Regions from separate parts of the Homo sapiens genome. Here regions 2 and 3 are each linked to region 1. Evidence: fine-mapped expression QTL. A gene starts in region 1. Each other region holds a variant in brackets. All regions are shown on one strand. Distances are between the middles of the regions.

Evidence for each region.
Region 2: its variant is fine-mapped to the expression of MAN1A1 in whole blood (TOPMed, PIP above 0.99).
Region 3: its variant is fine-mapped to the expression of MAN1A1 in whole blood (TOPMed, PIP 0.95).

What each region holds. Positions count from the first base shown.
Region 1 is chr6:119,347,613-119,352,612 of GRCh38, forward strand. It overlaps MAN1A1 (mannosidase alpha class 1A member 1), which reads right to left and starts at 2,149. Exons shown (of 13, transcript NM_005907.4): 1 at 1,930-2,149; 2 at 851-1,675. The coding sequence starts at 1,453. RefSeq lists an enhancer at 620-969 and silencers at 1,180-1,299, 1,360-1,559, 2,070-2,709.
Region 2 is chr6:119,638,849-119,649,746 of GRCh38, forward strand. The region is part of intron 2 of LOC105377975 (a long non-coding RNA gene); the gene reads left to right. Among named protein-coding and RNA genes, the nearest start is that of MAN1A1, 290 kb to the left of the region's middle. The variant T/C (reference allele first, on the strand shown) is at 5,247.
Region 3 is chr6:119,431,318-119,442,215 of GRCh38, forward strand. No RefSeq gene overlaps it. Among named protein-coding and RNA genes, the nearest start is that of MAN1A1, 87 kb to the left of the region's middle. The variant C/T (reference allele first, on the strand shown) is at 5,405.

The DNA.
Region 1 (5,000 bases):
ATCACTAACGGGTTCTAGAGCTCTGGGCCCTTCGATCTTCATCTTGAAAATGACAGCCTGAAAGGACTTTTTACGGCCCCCTTCAGCTTTAAGCTGGTCCTGACCTAATCACATGTTTCAAGTTCTAACTGAAAATTACGAGAAGGAAATTAGGAAAGATGTATCAAAGTCCATGTTTATCCTGGATTAACTTTGTCACCATTGTGCTGCTGTGGAGGCAAACCTGTTGCATCACATGGAATACCCTATTTCTGGCTGTGCATTAGAAATACAAGAGGCAGCCGACTGGCTTTTTATATTTTCATTTTTTAAAAAAGTAAACAATAGTATCCCTCGATGATGGGAAGTTCTCAGGTTTCACCTTTATAGTCTGAAAGTACACACAGAATGCCACCTGGCAGACAAGGGCCACACAGCTGAACCCGGGGTATGCTGGCTAGCTTTACCACGCGTGAAGACTCACTTTAAAGCCACGTCCCCAATCCTTACCAGGGGGCTGATCAGTGCCGTCGCTGTTACTGGTGGGGCGATTAACCGTGTAGCGGCCAGAGAATGAGGTTTGCGTATTACCTGCCCATGTATTTATACCCACCTCGTGTGGCTTGTGGTCACCAGAGCAAGAGCATGCAAATTAAAAGCAACGAGATTTGACCTTAGATCTTACTGGACACATCTACTACTATATTGGAAACAGGAAAAGAAAGAGCTTTTGACACAGCACCTGGTGGAAGGGGCAAACCTCCATCTCCCCATACATTGCATTGTTGCAGTCTTCAGAGTTTCAAAGGCTTGCCGTTTCTCCCTGAAAAACACGGCCGGTCGGGAGGGATTTCTGGCGCGGCCCACTCACCTCTTTGATCTTTGCCCTTTTCTCGCGGATGGCGGCGTCGGCGGGCTCCCGGCTCTCCACCCCGATTGGGGGCACGAAGTCCACCGGGGGCAGGCCTCTGAACGGCGCCTTGTCACGCAGCTGGTCCTGGGCCACCTTCTTCTTCTCCAGTAGGATGTCTCTTTGGATCTCCTCGGGCAGCTTCTGCAGGGTCTCCTTGGCTTCCCTGAGAGCCCGCTCGTGGTTTTCGCGGATCCTGGCCAAGTTGTCCTCCAGGGCGGCCTCCGGGTCCCCGGGTGCCCCCTCCTCGCGGCGCCGGGCTCGCCCCTCGGCCGCGTCCTCGGCGCGCGCCCCGGGCCCGGGCTTGTGGTCGGCGGCCGGCTGCAAGGCGGGGCTGGAGTGGAACAGGACCCCGCTGAGCAGCTTGGAGGAGTCTGGCAGGAAGAAGATCGCCCCGAAGCAGAGCGTGATGAAGGCGCTGAATACCAGCAGCAGCACGAACTTCTCCGTCAGGCGGAGGGCGGCGGGGCCCGACCCCTTCCTGCCACCGCCGCCGCCGAGCCCCCCGCCCAGGACGCCGCCCGCGGGGCTGCTGAAGAGCGGCAACAGGCCCCCCACGGGCATCGCTCCCGCTGTCCAGTGGTCCGGCGCCGCGCCGCTCAGCAGCCAAACTTCGCCGCCGCTGGGAGTCCGCGGCTGCGGGGCTGGGTCCTGCGTAGCCAGGCCGCCCGACCCCCTCGGCTGGGCTGCGGATCCTCCCTGGGGGAACAACTCCGCGCCGGGTCTTCTCCCCGGGGCGGCTCCTCGGGCACACAGGCACGCGCGACAGACCGCTGGCTGCAGCCCCTGCGGGGAGAGAAACAGTAAAACGTAGTAATTACGGCGATGATAAAGTTTCCAGCGGGTCTCCGCCCTCCGACTCCTGGCGAGCCTCCAGGACCGCTCCCCTTAAGCAGAGTCCTGTCCAGTCCGGGCACCGCCCTCGCAGCCCACTCTCTGGACTTGGGGTGAAGTTATCAGGTCCCGTGGGTAGGGGAGGGGTGTCCCGCGCAGGAAGGGGTCAGGGCAGCGCGCGAGCACCTCGGGGAGGGGCAGCGCACCTCTGGGCAGGAGGGGCGCAGCGTGGGCGGGAGACTCGTCAACTTCGCCCGCTCCCCATCTCCGCGCTGAGACTGCTGCCTCTTTCCTAGGCTGGGCTGAGCGCGCTGTCCCACGGTCCCGCAGCCCCGGCGCGGCTCAGGTGGGCGAGCGCGCCGACCTGCGGGCGAATGGCAGCGAGTAGAGCAGCACGGTACACTCCGCCGCGGCCCCGCGAGCACTAATCTCACTGCCGGTCTTGGGGCGGTGGAAAGCGAGGGAGGCGACGCGGCCGGAGAGTGACGGCGCGGCCGGGCCAATCACGCGCCGCCCAGGGTCCCGCGGGGGCGGGGCCGAGGCGAGGAGGGGGATGCGCGGGGCGGGGAGTTTACGGGAAGCGCAGCCTCGGCGGGGCCCGGCCGGCGGCGGGGAGGTCGCGGGGCCGGGAGGCGCGAGGTAGGCGGGAGCCGCGGTGAGGAGGACGGTCGAACCCGTGGCTGAGGCCCAGCGCCGAGAAGCGGCAGGCAGAGTTCGGGGTCGGGGAGTTTATCCTGCGCTGGCCTCGGCAGGGGTCCCCGGGGTGGTTGATCCTCGACTGGCCCGGGAGGCGCCTGGGTCCGCGCGGGACCTCTCTGCCTCCTCCTCCGACCCGTGCGGGGCGGTCGGGGGCGCTCCCGAGGGGGTCCCGGGAAAGGCGGGGTCTGGCAGGGGGTCCTGGGCGCTGGGTCGTTCAGAAGCACGGCTTTACTCCAGTTACCCTCTTTTTATCCAAGGCCGGGGTTCCCCGGGTGCCTGGTAGCAGTGAAACCCCAAGTCCCTCGGTTAGGGGAGCCGTGACCCTGGGAGCTTTTGAGCTCTCTGGTATAACATCCTTTTACATCCTAAGAGACACAGTTCTGTGCTTGCTTAGGACTTTTTTCGTATGCGCCCTTTCTTCCCCCAAAAAACAAAAAACCGAAAAAACTTGTATGTCTCTCCCGCCCACCCGTACTTTCACTATTCATTTACCTCATAGAAGTTGGTCAAATTTTCCATTCGAAGACGAGTTTTATGCTGCGGTAGCTTCAAGCAATAAGTCGAACACTGTGTTGAAATTAAGTCTTGGATCCGACTACTTCCAGCGAAGTGAGGAGTTGGTCCAATAGAAATTATTTTCCAAAATGTGTTGTAATTCTCCTGTTGCTCCACAAATAAGGGGTTATCAGAGAGGAAAACGTTGACTGACTTCGCATTTCTGAAAGCTGGTTTGTAGTCGCCTTATTTCATCCTTACCCTTCTCTGGAAATGTGACATTAGTTCTGTTTGTGCTTAAGACAAAGGAAACAGCTGGCACCTTTCGGGAAGGTGGCTCCAGTACAGTTGTTTCCAGGTGTTAAGCTGTATGAGAAAGTAGAAAAGTAATCAGAAATCCTTACTAGTTTTCATTTAATCATTTAATTATTAATTTTAACCATCATTATTTGTCGTCTACTTGTTTTGTGTAAAATGAGTAATACACTCAAAGTTCTTGTTAATAGGAAATTATTGTTTGATAAAGCTGGCTTTATGGCTTGGTTATTTTGATACCTGCTATGAAATTCTATGTCCAGAAGAGTGCAGCATATCCAAGCAGGGTAATAAGTTCAGAAGGACTGAAAAAGAAAACAAAGATGATTTTTCTTTAATGATGGAAAGGCAATTTTTATTTCAAACGATTATGCATTTGTAGGTTGTGCATAGGCTGAAAGGTTTGAATCACTGTGAAATAATGTTTCTAACAACATCCTTAAAACTGAGTTACCTCTTGAATGGATAGATAAATAGGAACTGGGTTAACTACCCCAAACGCTAATCTCTTTATGATCATCCTTTTTTGGAATGATTTATTATTTTAAAAATTATGTTGTAAGAATGGAATTATAGCCCCGGAAATATTTAGAAGCTTTATTTCAAATTAATGTTATTAAGTATTCCAGCAAAACAATAAATTCCACTTTTAAGTATATGTTAAAATGGTGATAAATAAAAGTTATAACTTAATTCTATTTCTGACACTTTAATTTTGATACCAAATCAGTTTGGGCATTTAACTTCTGTAGTGGAAATATTAAAAATTTAGTACGTGGGTTTAAGGATTTTTTCCCCTAAAAACTTTAAATTTATCTATGTTGTTTCTACATCTTTTAAAGTAACTATTCTTTTTAAGTTCATCATGAAGCTTATTTTAAGATTTTTTTCTTATTTTCCGTATTTCTTAAATGACAGGGTTATACTTGCAGCCTGGCTTTGATAATATGTTAAACAAGAAGTTAACATGGGTGGTTGATTATAGGTACATATTAAAGGGTGTCTGTGTACATTAGGTGGGATAAGAACTATATAGGAACACCAATATTTGGGCCAGAGCAAATTTGAAAAATTCACAAAGAAGGTATCTGAAGAGGCATAGCAATCGAATTATGCATCCTCTTTAAAATAATCACATGAAGCCCTGTGTGCTCATGGTAAGGGAGGAGTAGAAAATAGTCAACAAGTAAAATTGTGCATTTTGTAGAAGCAAAATCGGACACTTTCCTCTGATTTCAGTACTACAAAGCACTTGACATTCTACCATTGAAAAAAGTACTTTGTACCCTGAGATAAAAATAAAGGTGATTGGTTCTTGTCTTTTAAGTAATGAAACCTTGACTTTGTCCCCTAAGTCAAGACTCCCTAGCCACATCTACCTGAAGGTAATGTCACCATCTTTATGAATGCAATGATAGTGCTGAAATTGCTGTTTCTCATTATGGATGGTCTAATGTAAACCTAAGAACCTTAGTAATTTTGTGGGATTTTTAAAAAAATACTTGCTATGTTTTTTTATTTGGCCAGCCAGTCCTTTTGAAGTATAACTCTCTTGTAATTTTTGCAGGTTTGCTTGCAAACTTAATTCTTACATTTTCCTTTTTCAATACTTAATGTTTTTGTGTATTTCTTTGATAATTTGTAAATTTTTGTGTTTCAAGATTATATCTTTGAATCAAGTAATTTTTTAAAAACCTGATCATCAGTGATACCACAAAACACTACAAAGAAATCCCCAAATAAATGTTGTTGCTTAGATTTTTCTACT
Region 2 (10,898 bases), 290 kb after region 1:
GTCTAGACACAAATTCTTCCCAGATGGCTCTTGAAGACATCATCCATAACTACATTTCATTTGCATCTATATTTATAATTCTAATGTGGGTAGCATAGGTGTGGATGCTATAGGCAGGGAAAGCAGCAACAGCACACACACAGAGCAGCTTTGCCTGAGCCTTTATGTCTATGTGATCATTTTCCATGATGATTTTGCTTCTCTTACTCTGTGATTTAAAAAATGAAAGTAATTTCACTATTCTCTCCTTGTCCTCTCTTTGTTTGGTCTTATTCCCTTGTTACGGCCTGCTTACAGATCTTCTTTCTCTGTTTCTCTCTCTATGCTACCTCAAGGTCAGCATAATTTGAATTTTTTCCCCTGAATTTACTAAGTTAACTTCTATACTTGAACCTTGATGCTTTGTCTTTCTTGCTCTAATATATATTTTTCTTCTCTGATCAATATTTCCACACAACAGTCTTACATGTGTTACAGCAGCAGCTATAATAATAATAATAACAATAATACTTTCTATTTGTGAACTTTGCAGGCACAGAGTACAGTACTTGTGTATACAATATTTAACAAATAAATGGATAATGATGTTTAACAAATGGATAATGATAATAGCCAACACATATTGGGCATTTATTGTATGCCAGACACTCATTACGTGTATTTATTTAATGTTTATAACTTTTTGAATTTACAGTAATTATTATCATAGATTGCAGACAAGGAAACAAACACAAGGAATTTAGCAATTTATAAAGGGTCAGAGTTCTCACAGCAGTAATTGTAGAGCTGGGATTTGAACATAAGTCAGTTTGATTAAATATATTTTGGGTCTGCCACCATCAACACTAGTTCTAAGTGTATTATGATGGTGGCCATCTTGATTGTTCTCTTTTATAAGGCTTTGCTAAAATAGTCAACAGTGAGTTCTGGTAATCAAGTATATTTTAATTTCCCTGTGGATTTCTCATTGTAGTATACCAATAGTCTAAAAATTAGAGATCGCTATTAGGAAACCTACTTATGTTAATAGGCAAACAAATTATCAGTTCAGTGTTTACTTGAGTCTTCAAGTAAGAATGTATTCAGAGATTGATGATGCTATTGAATGTGCTGTCATAAAATCATTGACTTTTACACCTGAAAAGAATATTAGATAATGATGATGATAATAATAATAATAATAGTAATAGTAATAGTAATGATAATAATACCTGCCAGGCATACCAAGTTTTCTATATTCTGGGTCTTTTGTGATGATCATTATATACATTGTTTCATTAAATTCTTAGAATGACACTATGAAGTAGGCTATCATTTTGCACTATGATGATTTTACCAGTGAGAAAATAGACTTGTTATAGTTAGATAACTTCCTAAGTGATAATTGGCCAAGCTGAGATTCAAATACTGCAGAGCTTGTGCTCTTAAACATTGTTATTTGTTACAGTTTATTATACCCACAAATTTTCACAAATGCTAAAGTTGATGTTTAGAGAAGTTACTTGGCTTTTGCAGACCCTAAAGCTAGTCAGCATCTGCATCAGTCTGTTTTCACACTGCGATAAAGAACTGCCTGAGACTGGATAATTTAGAAAGAAAAGAGGTTTAATCAATGCACAGTTCTTCAGGCTTAACAGGGAGCATGACTGGGAGGACTCAGGAAACTTACAATCATGGCAAAAGGTGATGGGGAAGCAAGCACCTTCTTCACACGGTGGTGGGAGGGAGAGAGAGAGCAAGGGGGAAAGTGCCATACACTTTTAAACCATCAGATCTTGTGAGAACTCACTATCATGAGAACAGCATGGGGGAAATCAGTCCCCCATGATCCAATCACCTCCCACCAGGTCCCTTCCCCAACATTGGGAATTATAATTCAACATGAGATTTGGGTGAGGACATGTAGCCAAACCATATCAGTGTCTACCACTGGCTTTTAGTTGAAGATTTTTCCCATTACTGGTCACATTTTCTTTCACGCCACTTTGCTTTTTCAACAAAGCTTCAACTATTACCATCTTCTTCAATCATTCTTTCAACTAATCCAAAACTGAAGGTTAGGTTTATGCAGAGAATAAAGTATAATAGAGAATACATAGATGAATATGTCCTCTAAGATATTATAAACTAATTATGATAGAGAAAAAAACTATATAAGCAGCTAATTATGCTTCAAAGCAGAAAGAATTATACAGTATATTAAAAATCCAAGCAGTCTTAAGTTGGACTTGGAAAAAGTATTCGGATGATGTGGAATTTGAAATGAGCCTTGAAGGAAGGGTAGGGAGTTTGAAGGTAGGGTATTCCATCCAGATAGTTATGGATGAGAGCCAGCTAGGTGCTGTGAGAGGCACAGAGGCAGTCCAAGAAATAATCTGTCATCATGAGGACATAAATGCTACCTGATGAGGCAAGACTTACATATGTGGCATGAAAGTGCCCAGCATAGTGTTAAAGAGCTGTAGAAGGTCAGAGACAGATAAATATTTGAGAGCCAGAGTAGCCAGGGAAGGTCTACACAGGGAGCAGAGCCTGAGTTGAACTTTGAAACCTTGAAAGATAGGCAGTAGTTTTACATGAGAAGAGGGGCAGTGCAGGCAAGGGGAGGGTCCCAGGTACAGTCAGGTAAGAGTGCATGAGGGTGTTGATGGCATAGTGAGCAGACACACAGTAGTGTGTGTTTGTGTGTGTATGTTTAGGTGGGTACACACAGGTGATGGCTAAAGAATAACTGTGACAGACCAGAAGCTGGGTAAGTGATGCCAGCAGGCAGTATGACAACATGTTAACAAGTAGAGATGGGTGACCTAGTGCAGTGTTCTGTAGACTACAAAGTAATGACAGGTCCTGGAGAAGGTTATATAGCCCTGAGTGATCGCAGCTTATGCATCCATCATGTGAGTGCTGCTGGCTGAGTGTAATCTTGTTAACATCTTCATCTTTAAATAAGATTAGGAAAAATAGTCCATGGCAATACAAGTTGTTTATTTTTAAAGGCTATCTTCATTTTTTTAATAGAGAAAAAATAATATTGTTATGTGCAAAATCTAAACATACTGGAGAAGTCGGTATCAGCTTACATTACTTTTTCATCATTATTCATTCACACGGTCTCTAATACACTTGAATGAAAATTTAAATTAGATCACTAGTGATAATGATATTTGAATTCTGGCATACAAAAGTAGTGGAGTAGGAGAGACAGCAGAGAGACAAAACTGACTTAGGTTAAGAATCTGTTATGAGGAGTGTTAGGAGCTGACAACCTCCATCTGCCACACTGTTGGGATCTGCTTCAGCTTTCACTTTGAGACCATACTCCCATGAGCTGCTCCCAGCTGATGCTTGAGCATAGGGCCTGGAAATTTCTGCCCAATATGGGGCTTCTATATGTGTGATCTTTGCACTGGTGTTTCCCATTGGGTTGGCTCAAACTTTCTCAAAGCCCTACTGTATCTGAGATGCTTCCTAATGAGTCCCCCTTCCTCCCCTCTCTCCTTTTGCAGGTATCAGCTTTGCATCTTGGCCTGAAGGCTTTCCCTGATTACTTCTACTTCCTATCCCCCCAATCAATCTCTTGCCCTTGAATTCTTTCTTGATATCTGTTTGCTAGAGGACCCAAACTTACCCAGCATCTTTGTGATTATATAAATCAAATAAATAGAGCTATAGTTGAGAATAGAGGTCAGCAAACTTTTTCATAAAGGGGTAGCTAGTAAATATTTTAGGCCTGGTGGGCCACACATGGTCTCAGTCATATGTTATTCTTTATTTTTTCTTACAACCTCTAAAACTGTAAAAGCCATTTTTAACTTGTGGGCTGTAAAAAACTGGCAATAGTTTGCCTACTCCTGATATAGGGTATAAGGCATTTAATTTTAAAAGTATTTGCTTATTTTCTCCATGTTTCAATTTTACTAACTATAAAATAAAGCTAGATCTGCCCACTAAGCTCGCAGGGACTTTCTTTTAGCTTTATCAGTGGCAGTGAATAATTTCAATCTGGCCTTGGAGTCTGAAGAAGGAGACTGAGATGTGGTAGAAATTCAGGAAGTGGAGGGGGTGCCAATGAAAATATGTGGATCTAAGGCAGGTAATCTCTGATGAAGAGAGAAAAATCATAGAAACAGAAAAAGTGAAATTATCAGAAGCCCTTCCTTCCAAAACTTCCATAAGCCAGCCATGCATGAGAACTTTGAATAAGAGGAAAGGCAGGGCGGAAGTAGAGAATAAGAATGGATGGAGAAAGAAAGGCAAGGAGACAATGAGAAGGGCAAGAAAAGGGAGAGAAGTAGAGGCTGTTATGTTATTTTATTTTATTTTTACATAACAAAATGGTTGAGAAAATATAGAAATAAAAATATCCAACCTCTGGGAGTGGAGTAGACAACCTAAAATTTGATTGAAAGGAGTAATTGTCCAGAAGTCATATTTTTCACTGCATAAAAGTAGCTCTCTGGGAAGAGAGCAGTATGTAATGGAACCCTGATTAAAGTCAATTATAATAAACTCAAGGAACATATTCTTAATAATTCAGATTTGATGTCAATGTTAGCTTTCAGAAAATTGATGCTATTTTAATGACAGCCATTAGAAGAAAAAGGGATTTAGAGCACTTAATAGAACACTGTACAGAACAGTTCTGTTCATTCCCTCCAGGAAAATGTATCAGGATGTAGGAATCTTTGTTCTCTATTAAATGTCATAGGGGAAGGAACATAGGGTGTGGTTTTAGACTAGAGGATATAAGTATGAAACCAAACCAAAGCGAGGGTCTAAATGGTATTAACTCTGAAGCAGATGCCTGTTGTGCTTAATTACACCATTTCCTTTTTCTGGGCACTTAAGTTGGGGCAATACCTCTGAGTTTTAGCTAGTGAGATGAAGGCAGAAATGTCCCTTAAAACATTCCTCTTGACCTCTCTCTCCACTACTCTCTACTTCTGCAGTGATCTTGAAGGTCAAGCATTGCAGTTGGAATAGCTACAAGTTGAAGGAGGGCAGCCCTATCAATGCCATGCTATGTCCAAATGAGAAATAAATTGAAATTAGACTAAACCAATAATATTTTGTGGTTTATTTGCTACTTTAACAGAGGCTAGCCTATAGTGACCAGCAGAGATTCTGCAGGCATGAAGCCATGGTCAATGACTTGCTACACGCGGAGCTCAGGAAAATATTTGAATGTTACATTTGGTAAGCCAGCGTGGTTAAAGGGGCACATACAGGGCCGCAAGAATGCCTTC[T/C]GTTGAAAAGCAGATTAAGAGGGAAGCAGATGTTGCTGGAGTCATTTCAAGGTTTCAAAATTTGTTTAAAGCAGAGCCCAAAGAATGATAACTGCCCAGATGAATTCAAGCAAGCCTTTCAAGGCTATCGGAAAAGAAAGAAAATCAGACCCGATATACCATCGATAGCAACACTGAGGCAGCATCTGAGACCAATTGCTGGTGCTGTTGGGTTCTGGTTGAGATTCTGTTTCCTATTGTTTAAAAATTAGTGAATAGGGAAGGTTTTCCTGAAGAGAAATTATTGTAGAAAATAGAGAGTGGGTAATACAGAAAAGGTAGATAGCTGTGCATTGGAGGCCTGATACAGTCAGTTACCTGCTCTGATCTTTCCTGGCCCCTGCTAAAAATTGTAATGGGTCCTCTGTCTTCTCCCTAAAGCCCCATACATGTTTACCATACTGGATTGTTTCCTGTTGCCCAAATGAATCTTCCATTCTCCTAGTTTAATGGCTTCACTTATCTTGGTTTCCCTGATGGACATGCTCTTCTTTCTCACTTTTTCCTGATGAAATCCCAGCTCTTTTTCAAGGCCTAGATCAAATGCCATCTTCTACACAAAGGATTTCCTGTTGATTCTAGTCTATCATTTTCTTCCTCAATTCTCTCATAGAACCACATAACTTTCTGATACCACTTTCCTTCTACTTGTACTGTAGTTATTTGTATTTATGTCTTTTCTCTCCAACTATTTTGTAAACTTCTTGAGATCATGTTGAATTTATTTTTTTGTATGCCACGTAGTACAAATCAGAATTTCTGGTCTTAGTGTGTGATACATAAATGTTTAATTCAATTGAAGATAATTGAAGAATAAAAAGACTAATTTCTTTTGGCATTACTAGGCATGAAGACATATTAAATATGATAAATTAGCAGAATAGTGTTATAAAAAATGAAGTGAGATGAAGGGAAAAATTGGTAGCCAAACAGTTCTTAGTAAATATAAGGTGACACAAATAATGAAATATTATAAATTAATGATGGTGGGATAGTTACTTTGATATTTGTTTAAAAAATAGGAAAAAGAAACAAAATTGGTTTAGATCTTATCTTATACTCTACCAAAACAAATTCCAGAGAGAAATACAGAAATAACAATAAAATAATCAAGCCAGAAAATATAGAAAAGATTAACATCTATTCTGTGTCTAGATTTGGAAGGACTTATAGCCTTAAAAGCACTGGAAGAAATCATAAAGAAAAAAATTATAACAGACTTTAAAAACAAGTTCAAACAACTTTGGTACTTAAAAACAAACAATACAAACCATAATTTAAAGACAAGCTTCAACTCGGGGGTGGGGGAAAATATTTGCAAGGAATATCATTAAAAACAGAATTTATAACCCTAAAGTATAAAGAGCTTACATAAATTAGATGAACAATAGGACTACAACAGTACTTAAACTGATAATTGATAAAGAGAAAATAAAATGTTCAACCCATTAAAGAAATGCAAATTAAAAGAACAATGAGCACCAATTTTTGACCTATAGAAAATATTAAAGATTTAATGTACTGAATTTTAATGTGGGTCAGTGAGTCATTCATTTATATAATACTAATGGAAGTGAGAATGTTCTAGAAAGCAATTTAATAATATGTATCAATAGACTAAAATATTCATAACTACTTACTGATTAATTCCACTTTTAAGAATCAATACCTAAAGAAATTTTGCACATAATGATGTTTATAAAAGTGTTATTAAGAATGGTGAATATGAGCAACAATCTACAGTATATATTCAGCATGAGGAAAATTAGTAAATTATAACATATTTAGAGAGAAAATTGTATGTAGTCTCTGAAAATAATTTTTATAAAGAGTTTTGAACGATGTGAATAATTTCTTATGATATGATATTGAACAAGAACATAAGATATAGTATACCTGTGTAAAATTTCATACAAAGAAAAGTTTTTCAAAACATTTGTGCTGGTGTTGGCATAATACATGTATTTTTCTCTTTCATAATTTTCAGATTTTCTCAATAATCATGCAAAGATTTTTAGACAGAAAACTGTAAGCAAAATATACAAATTTTTAAGACTAATGACTTCAATACAAAACTGGGAAAGTAAGATGATAAAGGACCTACATGTACAAAATAGAATTTGAATTTCAGAGTATTTTCAAAGGCCTTTAAGAAGGTATGGCATTTAGAAGAACATTCAGTTTGCATAGATTGAAGTAATTTTAATAGAGGGATCACTTATGAAAGTAGAAGAGATAGTTCATAATCCAAGGGCTACCAAAATGAGAAGCTGTTTCCACCCCTAGAGCTGAGGTGGCAATGAGATAGAGTGGTGACAAGAATCAGAAGAGGGTAGCTGTATGGAGAAGTTTGCCTAGCAGGGTCAACCAGTATGCAGAGATCAGAAGGGGGAGCAAGGGGCATAATGACCTCAATTTCACTTGCCTCCTACTTGCCAAGCTCCTGCAGATGCTCTCCATTGGGTGACCCCAACTGGAAGTTAGGGACCAAGGGGGCCTGTTGGTGCAGATCAGCTTCCCAAGGCACGTAGCAGAGTGGAGGGAAGAGAGGAGATCAGAATGATAAATGAAAATACGGCACAGATGCTGTGGGAAAAAAAGAAAAGCTTGTCATGAAGGATCTCATAATGCATTCTTTACAAACAAATTGTTGGTTAAAGTCAATATGAGTTGGGGAATTGATTAATTGAAGATCTTCCAATGGAAGAAGAAGCCTGATCAATAAGGTTTGTTGCATATGCTACACATAGCAAAAGATTTTTGGATACAGCTAATATTGTGGGGGAAATAAAACAGGCTATAGTAACAAACAATTTATAAACTCTCATTAAAATGAAAGCAGAATGGCAAAGACTCACCAATTTAGGGGTAAAAATTTCCTGGAATAGCAAAAATGCTGTAGCTTACAGATAAATATGTGTTTGAATCAGGGAAAGAACTAAGAAGGTTAGGACAAATTGTAGTAAAGAGGATACAGAAACTGGTGAGGTGAAAATGATGGTAATTTGAAAAACTGGAATGTAGCAGAAGTGTATGTAAATTGCATACATTTTGGTATCTTTATGTAAAAAAGAACAAAAGTGGAAGTTTGGGAGGTGAAGTTTGAAGTTAAAAATCTATTATGGTTTTGTTATTTGTGATTATTTAAATCTAAATTTAATAACAAGTTTTGCAATCTCCCTGTCTGCTTTATCGAGTGTTAATGTTCAATGATACTGCATTCATTTGAAACACATTTTTCGTGAATTACTTAGTAATGTGGTCATGTTACAAAAAGCAGAATACAGTAGCTTGCCAAAGTTTTTGGATAATTGTTTTAGTGGTCATAGTACAGTATCACTCTTGGCAAATAAAATGTGGCTGTTTTGGAAAGACAGCATTTCCTTCAAAGGTTAAAAATATATTGACAACCTCTGAGATTCAACAGGAACTCATCTTTAAGATAAGGCCCACATAAAAAGTTTAGATATTGCCTGATGGCAGAGAGATAAATGGTTGTCAGAAAATGAAAATGGCTCATTTTATAAGTGTGAGTGGCAATTTTCCTATAACTCTGTCATATGGATAAAGTACATGCCTTTCTGACGCAGCCTGGCTGAAGGGAAGGAAGGAATAGCCAGGATTAATGAGATAAATGAAAATAATATTTATTTTCTGAGGCACTCTATTAACATCTTCGAGTGGGTCTGCCAGAATCTTTCTCCCAATATCATTATGTGAATGACATAGTTAAGACATTTATTAAGTTAACAGAAGTAGAGAATAGAGGTACCCTGCAGAAACATCTTTGGCAAAAATGAAGGGATCTGTTGCGACTCTGCATATATCTGTTGCTCTTCTTTTGCCTAATTTTATCTCTGTGTGTTTGAAATGTGTTCACTGTACTTCCCTTCTATTTAGAGCTTGATAAAGGGAAGTTGAAAGGTATAATATGACATTTTTAACTCTTAAGAATAAAGATAACCTATGGCTTAGCTAAAATATTAATTTCACAGCAAAACTATTGCTTGTATCAGAGAGAGAAAGAGGAGAGGAGAGGAGGGGAGGGCAAAGGAGGGGAGGGCAAAGAAGGGGAGGAGAAGAGAGGAGAGATTTGCTAATATAAGTTGTGACCTAAAACTTAAAAAGCATTTTTAATTGGTCAGACATGGAGTATGTTTGCCTGTTTAATCTTTTTACTTGCTTGTGTATTGAAGAGTACTTTCAAATTTAGCTGAGTGTCCTCTACACATTCAGGAAAGTAATACTTACGGGAGATAGTCCTGTCAGATACATGTGTGATATATTTGTTAATATATAGTATAACACAAACTTGCATTATACTATAATTTCCCACTCACTTACCCTAAATGCTAACCCACTAATGTTAGTATGAGACCAGCCATGAGGCAGTCTTGAATTTATATGCTACTTCCCTGTCTCGGTCATTTTATCTTGAAAGTACCCTACAACATCTACAGATATCTCATACAAAATACACCAATCAAAAGACCAACAGCATATGTGTGTACATTTTGCCTTGCCCAGTGTATCCTTTTGGATGTTTTTGGTTCAGTCTTCAGATCTGCATAAGTATTGGAGGTTCTCAGGGGCCCAATAATCCCACTCTCCAGAGGCAAACTCTGTGATTAGTATTTATCTTTCCAGTCTTACTAGATGCACATTTAAATGTGTATATGTTCTATATTATGCATACCGAACTGTAATCTGCTTTTACTCATGTAATATGTGGTAAGTCAGTACCTAAAAATTATCTGATCCTTTCAAGTGGCTGCATGGTATTCTGTTGTATGGACCCACTCCAATTTATTTTTAAAATGATTGGTGAATTCTAGGTTGTTTCAGATATTAGTAATGAAATAACGACTTTATGAACCTCACAATGACACATACATTTGCATTTTTATTTATTCCATAGGATAAATCCAAAATGTGGAATTACTGAGACTACATACATTTAGATTGTTGGTGTGCTTTGCAACATTGCCATTAGAAAGGTTGATTAAAATTTTACTTTTTAGGCCAGGCGCGGTGGCTCATGCCTGTAATCCCAGCACTTTGGGAAGCCAAGGCAGAAAGATCACCTGAGGTCAGGAGTTCGAGAGCAGCCTGGCCAACATGGTGAAACTCGGTCTCTACTAAAAATACAAAAAAATTAGCTGGGTGTGGTGGCCAGCGTCTGTAATCCCAGCTACTCGGGAGGCTGAGGCAGGAGAATTGCTTGAACCCAAGAGGCGGAGGGTGCAGTGAGCCGAGATTGTACCACTGTACTCTAGCCTGGGCAACAGAGTGAGACTCCATCTCAAAAAAAAAATTTTACTTTTTAAAAGTTAAAATCCAAGCAGTTAACAAAAAAAGAAAAAGGGGGGGTGGATTTTCTTTTTTCTGTTTTCCTAGAGTACACTCATTTTCCTCATTATTTGGGGCAGATGTTAAATGGTATCATTTTTCTCTCTCTCGTGCCACTTTATGAACCCTCGTGTTTGCCAGTGTTCTTCCTTTAATGTTGTGACCAGAGTTACTGATCCTTATTATAATCCGTGTGGACTCTTCCCTTTCGGAAAGAATGCACATCCCTTTGTGGGATTAACCGAGAAGGAGAGGTTCTCTGTC
Region 3 (10,898 bases), 87 kb after region 1:
AGAAAAGCCTCACAGCACAAGATTGTTTCTTAAATCCTCTATCCCTGCTTTATACTTTATAATGGTCTCTCATTGATGAAATAGAACCATAGAATAGCTATCAAATAGAAAAATAACAATAAAGACATCTGGCCCCAAATTTGGCTATTTACATTTTTTTCTTTACTGAATTTTTCCAGCAACTAAACTTAAAAAGATATTTTTCCATTCTCATCTAGAAGAAGGTCCTGTCATCATTCCTCAAGGATTCCTTGGGAAGAGAAGCCATCGTGGGCTATGCTTTCTGAGCTAATGTGGGGATAGATTTTATTTCAGTCACTAAGGGCTCTGGAAGCATCTAGCGTTGTCTGACTTAAACCTTACCTGGAGAAGTGTTTCTAATCTACCCAGTGGGGCTGGCTTCATGGGCTTGTGACCTGTGCAGTCACAGAGGGGCCCACATTTCGAAGGTCCTCACTCTTGGTTTATTACTTTGCTGTCACCATCTTGAAATTTCCAATTATTTTTTAGCAAGGGGCCTGCATTTTCATTTCCTACAAATTATGTAGCCAATCCTGCTCCTCAGACCATTTGCCTCAGAATCACTTGGTGTAGGAATATAAATCAGATTCTTACTGTATCAGATCCTCTAGGGCTAAGGCCCCTGAATCAGCATATTAATAAACATCCAATGCATTTTTTGCAAAGTTTGCAAAACTTGAGAACTACCTGGATAGAGAGTTAAAATATCAGGTTCTTGGGCAGCTCTGCTTGATGAAAGATTTAAAGCAGAATTCTTGACTTTTATTTCAAGTGAGGGAAAAAAGAAACATTCATAATTAAAAACGCTTTATTTGAAATATAATAGGTGGTTTTGTCTTATTGCCAAAACAAATATTTGGGAGTATGCCTAAATTGTTGATCTGAGGATTCTCACACACTCTTTGTTCATTCCAGCATTATTTATTTATGTTTATTTTTATTCATTTCCCATTAAGCCAGGGAAATGCTTCCCTTATTTGTTAACTAATTAGATCTGCTAAAAGAGAGTAATACTGTCTGAAAATAGTTTCACATTTCCTCCAATCCCCTCAATACCCTGACAAATCAGAAAAGATGGAATCCTCATAAATTACTTGTAGGTTTTTGAGAAGTGCTAGTTGATGTTTCTGCAGGCATATGTATTTAGTTTTTATTCCAAAGTAGCTCCAAGATAGGAAAGAAACAGCGTCAGCCTGCCAGACTATTTCAATGACAGATGTTAACCTGGCTCCAGAAGGCAAGGCCCCGGATTGAGGGCATCTGGGGATCTTTTTTGGGACTATGAACAGGAAGATAATTAGTATTAGTTGCTCTAAGATTGTAGCATTAAATATTTAATCTAGGCTAAATCACCATAGAGCCATTAGAAGGACACAGCTTTTCATTACAGTGCATAGAACAAGATTTTCACCAGCACTCTAGGGATGAACAAGTTCACCTGACACCAGAAAGTCTTGGATTCATCAGATGGCAGCACTGTTTGATATTTACGCTTCAAATTTTGTTCTTTCTGACCACACCTGACCAGATCTGTGAACATCAAGTATTTTTCTAACTCATATTCTCAGACACTTGCCGATCAATAGACTCTTTTAACTGATTTTTGGTGTACTTAAAAAATAATCTATATCACATTTTTTATTTCTGATAAAAATAAGATTTCATGGCAAAAGATTCAGAAAAAAACTATGTATTTGGTATGGTTAGGCTTTGTGTTCCCACCCAAATCTCATCTTGAATTATAAACCTCATAATCCCCACATGTCAAGGGAGAGACCTGGTGAGAGGTGATTGGATCACGGGGGCAGTGTCTCCCATGCTGTTCTTGTGATAGTGAGTTCTCATGAGATCTGATGGTTTCATAAATGTCTGACAGTTCCTTCTCTACACTCTTGCCTGTTAACATATGAGACATACCTCTTCCCCTTCCACCCTGATTGTAAGATTCCTGAGGCCTCCCCAGCCATGAGAACTGTAAGTCAACTAAATGTCTTCTCTTTATAAATTCCCCAGTCTTGGGCAGTTCTTTCTAGCAATGTGAGAACGGACTAATAGATTATTTTGGACAAATATTTTAAGGCCTTTTGAGATTTCATCTTACTGAATCCATTTTACTTAATACTTAAAATTGTTTATAATATATAGTTGTCATCCTTTTACTAAACGTGTGAATAAGAATGTAGTTTAGATTTAAAATTAAAATCTTTTAGGATGGAGTACATTTAAAAAAACACTCATTTTAACCTGAATTTTCAACAGTCTTTTGACAAATTCAATTTTTAGAGAGGATGGAAAAATATGCATAAGTCAGACCCAAAAGTAAATAATATAAATAGTTCCCTGATGGCCTCTTCTCATCTTTTCTGTGTTTCCTTTCTGATTCCTTTGCCTCCAAGCTTGGGGCGTGGATCAGTCCTGTGGCTAATAAGCAGCCCTTAACATAAGCCTCATCTGAACCTCTCCCAGAATGACATTTAGGCATCTATTCTGCCTGGATATAACAAACTGAACTTGATTACTAAAATAAGTCAAACAACTAGGCAAGAACCTTAAAAGATACAAACAGACAAAACTTCAAATATCTGAGAGGTCATTATTGTTTGTTTTTGATGTCATTGTTCAGTTAAGTAGTTACAATTTGTGTAATTGTTCCTAATTTCGTTTGAGCCCTTTCTCTATAAAAGATCTGTCTCATCATTACAGAATAATATACTCTGTAAACAGATTTTATGTAGTTTATAATTATTTGATTAAAAAAGGTAAACATTAGCAGGATGTTGAAGAAATATTTTCACGTGATGTTCATTGCAGCATTATGTAGAACAACCAAGGTGGAAGCCACTTAACCATCCATTGATGGATAAATGGACAAAGAAAATGTGCTATATGCATACAATGGAATATTATTCAGCTTTAAAAGGAAGGAAATTCTGTCACATGCTACAACACGGATGAATTTTAAGGACATGATGTTAATTGAAGTAAGGCAGTCACAAAAAGATAAATACTGTAATGATTCCACTTATATGAGAGATCTAAAGCAGTTGAACTCTTAGAAATAGAAAGTAAAATGGTAGCTTCCATGGGGTGGGGGAAGTGGGAAATGGAGAGTCGTTCAATAGGTATAGGATCTCGGTTTTGCAAGATGAAAAGGTTCTAGAGAGCTGTTGCACAACAATGGGAATATACTTAATACTACAAAACTGTACACAAAATAGTTAAGGTAGTAAATTTTATGTTACATGGGGGTTTTTTTTTAACTACAATTAAACAATAGCAAAAAGAAAAGCAAGAAGGTAAACACTATATAATGAGTGATTAGCTCAATTAGAGCAGGCAATAAAATTTAGCCCTAACTTTAAACTTAATTTTAATGTAAAACAGTGTGAATTGTCTGTCTTTGAGCCAGTTAGCTCTCTCTCTGTTGTATGTTCTGATTCTACATTAGTTAGGTTGGCCAGCTCTTTTCTGAATGCTTGCCTAATGTTTCATGGAATTGCTACTGAGCTGAAAATTTCAGTGGCATGCCTTTATAACAGCTCCGTGAATGGAAAGGATAGCACATTTGCTAAATACACCACCGTGTCACATAGCATTCTAAAAGTACAACTCTCTAATCTTCTTAAGTTTAAAGGTTGAGAAGAGGCAACAAAGAAATTCCCCACTGCCTTTCCATTTTTCCTTTCAAATTAATTTTTGTTTTACATTATAACAGTATATTACATTTATAAACTCTAAAGCTGGGGAATTAAAAGGGAATTTTATTTTTAATTAAACATTTTGCTTAAACTATGCATTAGTATTTAATGGATAAAGTTCATCAACAGATTGCCCATTTTACAAGTTCATTTTCTATTATTTTATCAGGCACTGCACTATAATTAGGAGATTATATGTGTACGTTTTCTATGTGCAAATCTTGTACAGTTCTTGTAAATACTAAAAAGATGTATTGGGTTAAGTGTTTACAATTTTTTGCCAGTGACTAATTTTTGACTGTTGTAAAATAAAAATGCTTTGGGAGGCCGAGGCGGGCAGATCACCTGAGGTCAGGAGTTCGAGACCAGCCTGGCCAACACGGTGAAACTTCATCTCTACTAAAAATTAAAAAATTAGCCCGGTGTGTTGGCAGGCACCTGTAATCCCAGCTTCTCAGGGAGGCTGAGGCAGGGAGAATTGCTTGAACCTGGGAGGCAGAGGTTGCAGTGAGCCGAGAGTGCGCCACTGCACTCCAGCCTGGGCAACAGAGTAAGACTCTGTCTCAAAAAAAAAAGCTTTGGATTTAATTTTGATACGGTCCAGTTACAGAAGTGCTTGGGAGGAGTAGTGCCAAATTTAAGATCATATAGTAACAACAAGGTTTACTGGCATAGCTACATTATTTTGTACCATATTCTCTGACTGATCTTTTGTCATTCTCAGTAGTGATATGTCCTTATAGGAATGAAACAGATTTTGACAAAAATATATTGAGCTAACTTATTACTTTGTGAAATGTTCAGCTTAATTTTTGTAGGCAACATTAATTTATACTTCATTGCATTATATTCTCAAAAAATTATTGGGAGACTTACACCAAAAGTTTTTGCTCAGATTTAGATAATTACTTTTGGCTTAAGAATGTAACTCCATAGGGATTCAACTATTAGCCTTGTATGAAATTCATTTTAGTTTTAATCTCACTTGTATAGCATATTTCAATTACCTCAGTTGTATATCATTTATCCCCAATCCAAGCTAAAATTACTGCCGTGTCTTAATCATTGTGTCATTTATTTTATTTTACTATTCCCTTTTGGATAATCAAAATGCAATTAAAGTAGAATTAGAACAAAATGAAAGGTTAAGAGAAAATTATAAGCAGAAGTCTATTATAATATAGCTCTTTGTAAAGGATTTAGATACACTGTGGTTACATTGTATTCTCTTCAATGTAAAAATTAAATTTATAGTTTTCCTATTAATGTAGCCTTAGGCCTGTCTCCCAATACTAATATCGTAAAGGAATTCCATTGTCTTGGAAAATAATGGAATTTATGGTAAATGTATACATAAGGTAAATATAGTGGGACAATAATTTTTTATGTTTGTTGCAGTAGTGTTGCAATTTGCTGTACAGAAAGCATTGCTGATTGTGTAGAATATGCTTATAGTGCTGGTGCCACTTACTGGCAGGGATCAAGGATTCAAATGAAATTAAGAAACAAAAGTTAGAGAGTGAAAGTAGTCATAAAAATAGTTTTAATTCTTTCATTTTGACAAATGTTTTTATTTTTGAAATTATTTTTCCAGTAAGCTATTTACTAATGAGCAAACGAGGGCTTCCATCTATTGAACAATTTTAGACCTTAATATTCTTCACTCGCCAGATCCTACCTGCTTC[C/T]TCATGCTCTCAGCAGATGGCTTTTCTTATCTCCTAAGGCACAGAGAGGATCAAGTCTATCAGGAGACAATTTTCTCGACTTCCTATTTCCTCCTCCACCTCTTTCTATTAACATAGCTCTGTCTAGGCCAGGACATAGCTTACTCTCTTCATTTTAGAGGAATTGTTTTTCCCACTGTCTGAAATTTAATCTCCATTTGTTTTGCTGATCCTCTTCCTATGATTTTGAATGTTTTGTAGCAGACTACTCCCTCTCTTATACCTTTGTTTTCCCAGGATCTCATCTTGGCCTGTAAACATGCTGCTGTCTCAGTACCAAATAAGACAAAGCAAAAACACATTCACAAACCCACATCCCTACAAAACCCTTTATTGACTCTATTCTATCCGCTGACTTCTACTCTATTCACTATCTTATTTTTCTAATTCATTTGTAACTGAAATTATCCCAAGAAGATGACAATTGTCTCCACCTCTTTCTCTCTTTTTTGCACCTGAACTCACTGCAGTCCACTTCCATCATATAATTAAAAATTATCTTTCCAAATCATCAGAGTCCTCATTGTTAAATCTGATGCTTTTCAGCTATTTTCTCACTGTATCTCTCAGTGTTCGGCATTAGTGGCCATGTTGTCTATGAAACATTCTCATCACTTGTTTTCCCATTATACCAATCTTTCATAGCTTGTGGAATATCTTTTTGGCTCCTTCTTCTTTTAGCTTTCCTAAAACATGCATACTCCCTAGTAGTCTGTGCTTAGACCTCTCTTCTTTTGTTTTGTTTTCTTTTTTTTTTTTTTTTTTTTGGAGACAAGGTCTCACTCTCAGGCTGGAGGCCGAGTGCAGTGGCGCGGGCTCGGCTCACTGCAACCTTCGCCTCCTGGATTCAAACGATTCTCCCACCTCAGCCTCCCGAGTAGCTGGAATTACAGGCCCAGGCCAGCACGCCTGGCTAATTTTTTCTGTTTTTTGGTAGAGACAGGGTTTCACCATGTTGGCCATGGCTCGTTTTCAATTCGTGACCTCATGTGATCCTCCTACCTCGGCTTCCCAAAGTGCTGGGATTACAGGCGTGTGCCACAGCGTCCGGCTAATTTTTGTATTTTTAGTAGAGATGGGGTTTCACCATATTGGTCAGGCTGATCTCAAACTCCTGACCTCCAGTGATCCACCCACCTCGACCTCCCAAAGTGCTGGGATTACAGGAGTGAGCCAACATGCCCGGCCAGACCTCTTTGCTTTCTAATCTACACACTTTCTGTGAAAGGCTTTATTTAGGTTGCTGGCTTCAACTATGACCTGCATGCAGATGAATCTCAGACCCACCTTTCCATCCCAGATTTCTCTTCTGGGCCTTTGATCCCGACTGTGCTACAGGCACCTCAAAGCCAACGTGTTCAAAACTGAAGTCTCCACTGAGTCTGGTCCTCTTCTGGGTGCTTTCTTGTTCAGTGGATGAGCAGCTAGCCAGTTAACCAAGATAAACTGGGACACAGTCTTGGTTTCAACGTACCGTCTTCACATTATGTCTAATTAGTGGCAGAGTCCTGTAAATGTTATATTTTTAATATCTCTGATCCATCCCCTTCTTTTGTCACTGGCTGAATTTAGAAACAGTTACCCTACTACTCTTTTTAAATCCAACCTTGATCCCATTAAAATCCATTCTTCAGCTTAAAAAATAGTAAGTTTTTGAAAACACAAAACCAGATCATGTCATTCATTGTCCAGTTTAACACCTTTAATAACTCTTCATTGCCTTTAGAGAAAAATTCTAACTCATTAGCATGGTAGAGCAAGTCCTTTCTAATTTGACCCCTACTGACTTTCCAAACTCATCTTGTAATACACTCTGCCATTTATTACCTGCAGCCATCACTCAAATTTTAGCAGACCACCCTCAGTTTGTGGAAAAGGCCAAGTGCTCTCCTGCCTCTATATTTTTACACACTCTATTATTGCTGTTTGGTACATCCTTCCTGTCCCTTTCACATTTGTATATCCTTCAAAACTCAGGGCAGGCATCAACTCCTCAGAGAAATGTTCCAGTTTGGTTTCATTGTCTGTCTTGTGAGCTCACTGTAAATCCTGTGCTTAGCTCATAGGGCTTTTTCATTTATATTAAAATTATTTTGCTCCCCAAACTCCTGGAGAGCAGGGACCTTTATCTCTGATTTCTCAGTGACTGAGAACACAGTAATTGTTGTTCAGTAAATGGAAAAGAATGAATGAAGATGAAAAGAAAATTAGCTGTTGTGTTACAGCCTAAGAAAGAACTTGAGATTCTGTTCTAGCTCATAGTGAGATTTGAGAGAGCCACTCAGTTTTGGTACTTAGAAGATAGAATCAATTGTGATGATGATTTCTATTTTTCCTTTGGACAGATTTTGATAATAGAATATCCTAGGTATAGAATTTTAGGACTAGAATATATGTTAGAAATTAAGGATGTGTCTACTAGCCACATATATTTTAGATTTTGTAATGTCAAAGAAATATAAAAGTATATATACATGACTAAAAGACAAGATGCAACATCCTCTGATAATTACTCTTGAAGCAATCTTGCTTATTATTTTCAGTGGTGTAATGTATATAAAAATGGACCCATTGTAATAAAGCTTTTCCTAAGATATTCTTCTAGAAAAATTAACATTTCCTTGGCTTTATTGTAATCTGTAATGTTTTTGAAACATGACTGTTGTATAAGTTCTTAATTAACAAAGTACAAAATAAGAATCATTGTAACTATATAATTTCAAAATCAAAAGGAGAAAAGTGCTTTCCTTTTTTTTTTTACCAATTCAGAAAATTATTTACCAATTCAGAAAATTTAACAACCATAAGCAAGTAAGTTTCCATTGCCATTTTTAGTCTCTACCTTGTCAAAAGTAATGATTGAACAGTAAACTAATTCAGTCAACTGAGTGTTTTATCTCCTTGACCTATAATAATGGGTTTGGCTTTTGCCTGTATTTCCTGGAATTGTAAAAAAATCAGCCAGTAATTTTGATATCCTGGAATTATTAGGAGCTAAAATGTATTATCAGGCACTACAGTTGCAAAGTTTTACACAACTATTCTTTAGACATTTTTGGACCTGTGTGGAATGGTAAAAACAATAGATATATAATTCAAAGTAAATTTGAAAACCAGTCTAATAAACTGACATGTCTAAAGATGCTTTAATCTAAAAAGTCAAAAGTAAACAAATAGCCAAAATATAAACATTAGTACTCCCACAAAACCTGCAAATCCTTCTCAAATCTACCACCTAAATATTTCTCGTTTGTGAGAATTTCTACCTGTAACCTCGTTCATTGGCTCTTGTTCTACCTACTTATGGAGGACTCTAGCCTCATAAATTCCTGGAACGTCTGAAAGTCCTCACATATATATACACACAAACAAGTCTCATCAATTACTGAGTGGCCTTACCCTTGCTCTCCTACACTCTCCCTCCCCTGTCCTATTTTCCCACCTCCTTCAGCTGCACTTCCAAGATTTGTCTTCTCTAAGCCAGTCTGGGGAGACATCCTCTATTTTGGTTTAATACACTTAGAAAGTTGCCAAAGTACCATTGCCTTGTGTCCCAATTGTTTAATGAGATTTTAGGGCAACTAGCTCTTAAATCAGTGGAGACAGGGCTAGGAACCATTCCATATTGTCTGCTTTTCTTGTTATATGCGTCACCACCCCAAATGCAAGCCTCTCCATGCACCAATAAATTCTTCTTTCTTGACTTTTTTAAAAAAATTATTTTTAACTGACATAATAATTGTATATATTTATGCGGTATTTATGTGATGTTTTGATACATGTTTATATTATGGAATAATTAAATCAAGACAATCAACAAATCCATTAAGTACTTTTTTTGTGATGAAAACATTTAAAGTCTACTCTTTTTAGCAATTTTGAAATACACATTATTATTTATGATAGGCACCATTCTGTGCAATAGATCACAAAAGCTCATTCCTCCTGTCTGACTGAAACTTCACACCCTTTGATCAACATCTCCTCCTTCCCCACCCACCCCTCTCCCCTACAACAATAAATTCTTGAACAGAGGAATCACATCTTACTTGGACGATGGATTATATAGTTATGAGAGGTGACAGCGTGTGCCCTTGCTCGCTCTCGGCGCCTCCTCGGCCTTGGCGCCCACTCTGGCCGCGCTTGAGGAGCCCTTCAGCCCACTGCTGCACTGTGGGAGCCCCTTTCTGGGCTGGCCAAGGCCGGAGCCGGCTCCCTCAGCTTGCGGGGAGGCGTGGAGGGAGAGGCACGGGTGGGAACCAGGGCTGCGCGCAGTGCTTGCGGGCCAGCGCGAGTTCCGGGTGGGTGTGGACTCGGCGGGACCCGCACTCGGAGCGGCCGGCTGGCCCTGTCCACCCTGGGCAATGAGGAGCTTAGTACCTGGGCAAGCAGCTGCGGAGGGTGTGCTGGGTCTCCCAGCAGTGCTGGCCCACCGGCGCTGCGCTCGATTTCTCGCGGGCCTTAGCTGCCTTCCCGCGGGGCAGGGCTCGGACCTGCAGCCCGCCATGCCTGAGCCTCCCCGGCCCCACCGCTTGGTGGGCTCCTGTGCAGCCGGAGCCTGCCGGACGAGCGCCGCCCCCTGCTTCACGGCGCCCAGTCCCATCGATCACCCAAGGGCTGAGGAGTGTAGGCGCACGGCGTGGGATGGTCAGGCAGTCCCACCTGCAGCCCCAGTGCGAGATCCACTGGGTGAAGCCAGCTGGGCTCCTGACTGGTGGGGACTTGGAGAATCTTTATGTCTAGCTAAGGGATTGTAAATACACCAATCGGCACCCTGTGTCTAGCTCAAGGTTTGTAAACACACCAATCAGCACCCTGTGTCTAGCTCAGGGTTTGTGAATGCACCAGTCCACACTCTGTATTTAGCTACTCTGGTGGGGACTTGGAGAACCTTTGTGTTGACACTCTGTATCTAGCTAATCTAGTGGGGAGGTGGAGAATCTTTGTGTCTAGCTCAGGGATTGTAAACTCACCAATCAGCACCCTGTGTCTAGCTCAGGGTTTGTGAATGCACCAATCGACACTCTGTATCTAGCTACTCTGGTGGGAACTTGGAGAACCTTTGTGTCCACACTCTGTATCTAGCTAATCTAGTGGGGACCTGGAGAACCTTTGTGTCTAGCTCAGGGATTGTAAACGCACCAATCAGCACCCTGTCAAAACAGACCACTTGGCTCTCTGTAAAATGAACCAATCAACAGGATGTGGGTGGGGCCAGATAAGAGAATAAAAGCAGGCTGCCCCAGCCAGCAGTGGCAACCCACTCGGGTCCCCTTCCACACTCTGGAAGCTTTGTTCTTTTGTTCTTTGCAATAAATCTTGCTACTGCTCACTCTTTGGGTCCACACTGCCTTTATGAGCTGTAACACCGCGAAGGTCTGCAGCTTCACTCCTGAAGCCAGCAAGACCACGAACCAACTGGGAGGAACGAACAACTCCAGACGCGCCGCCTTAA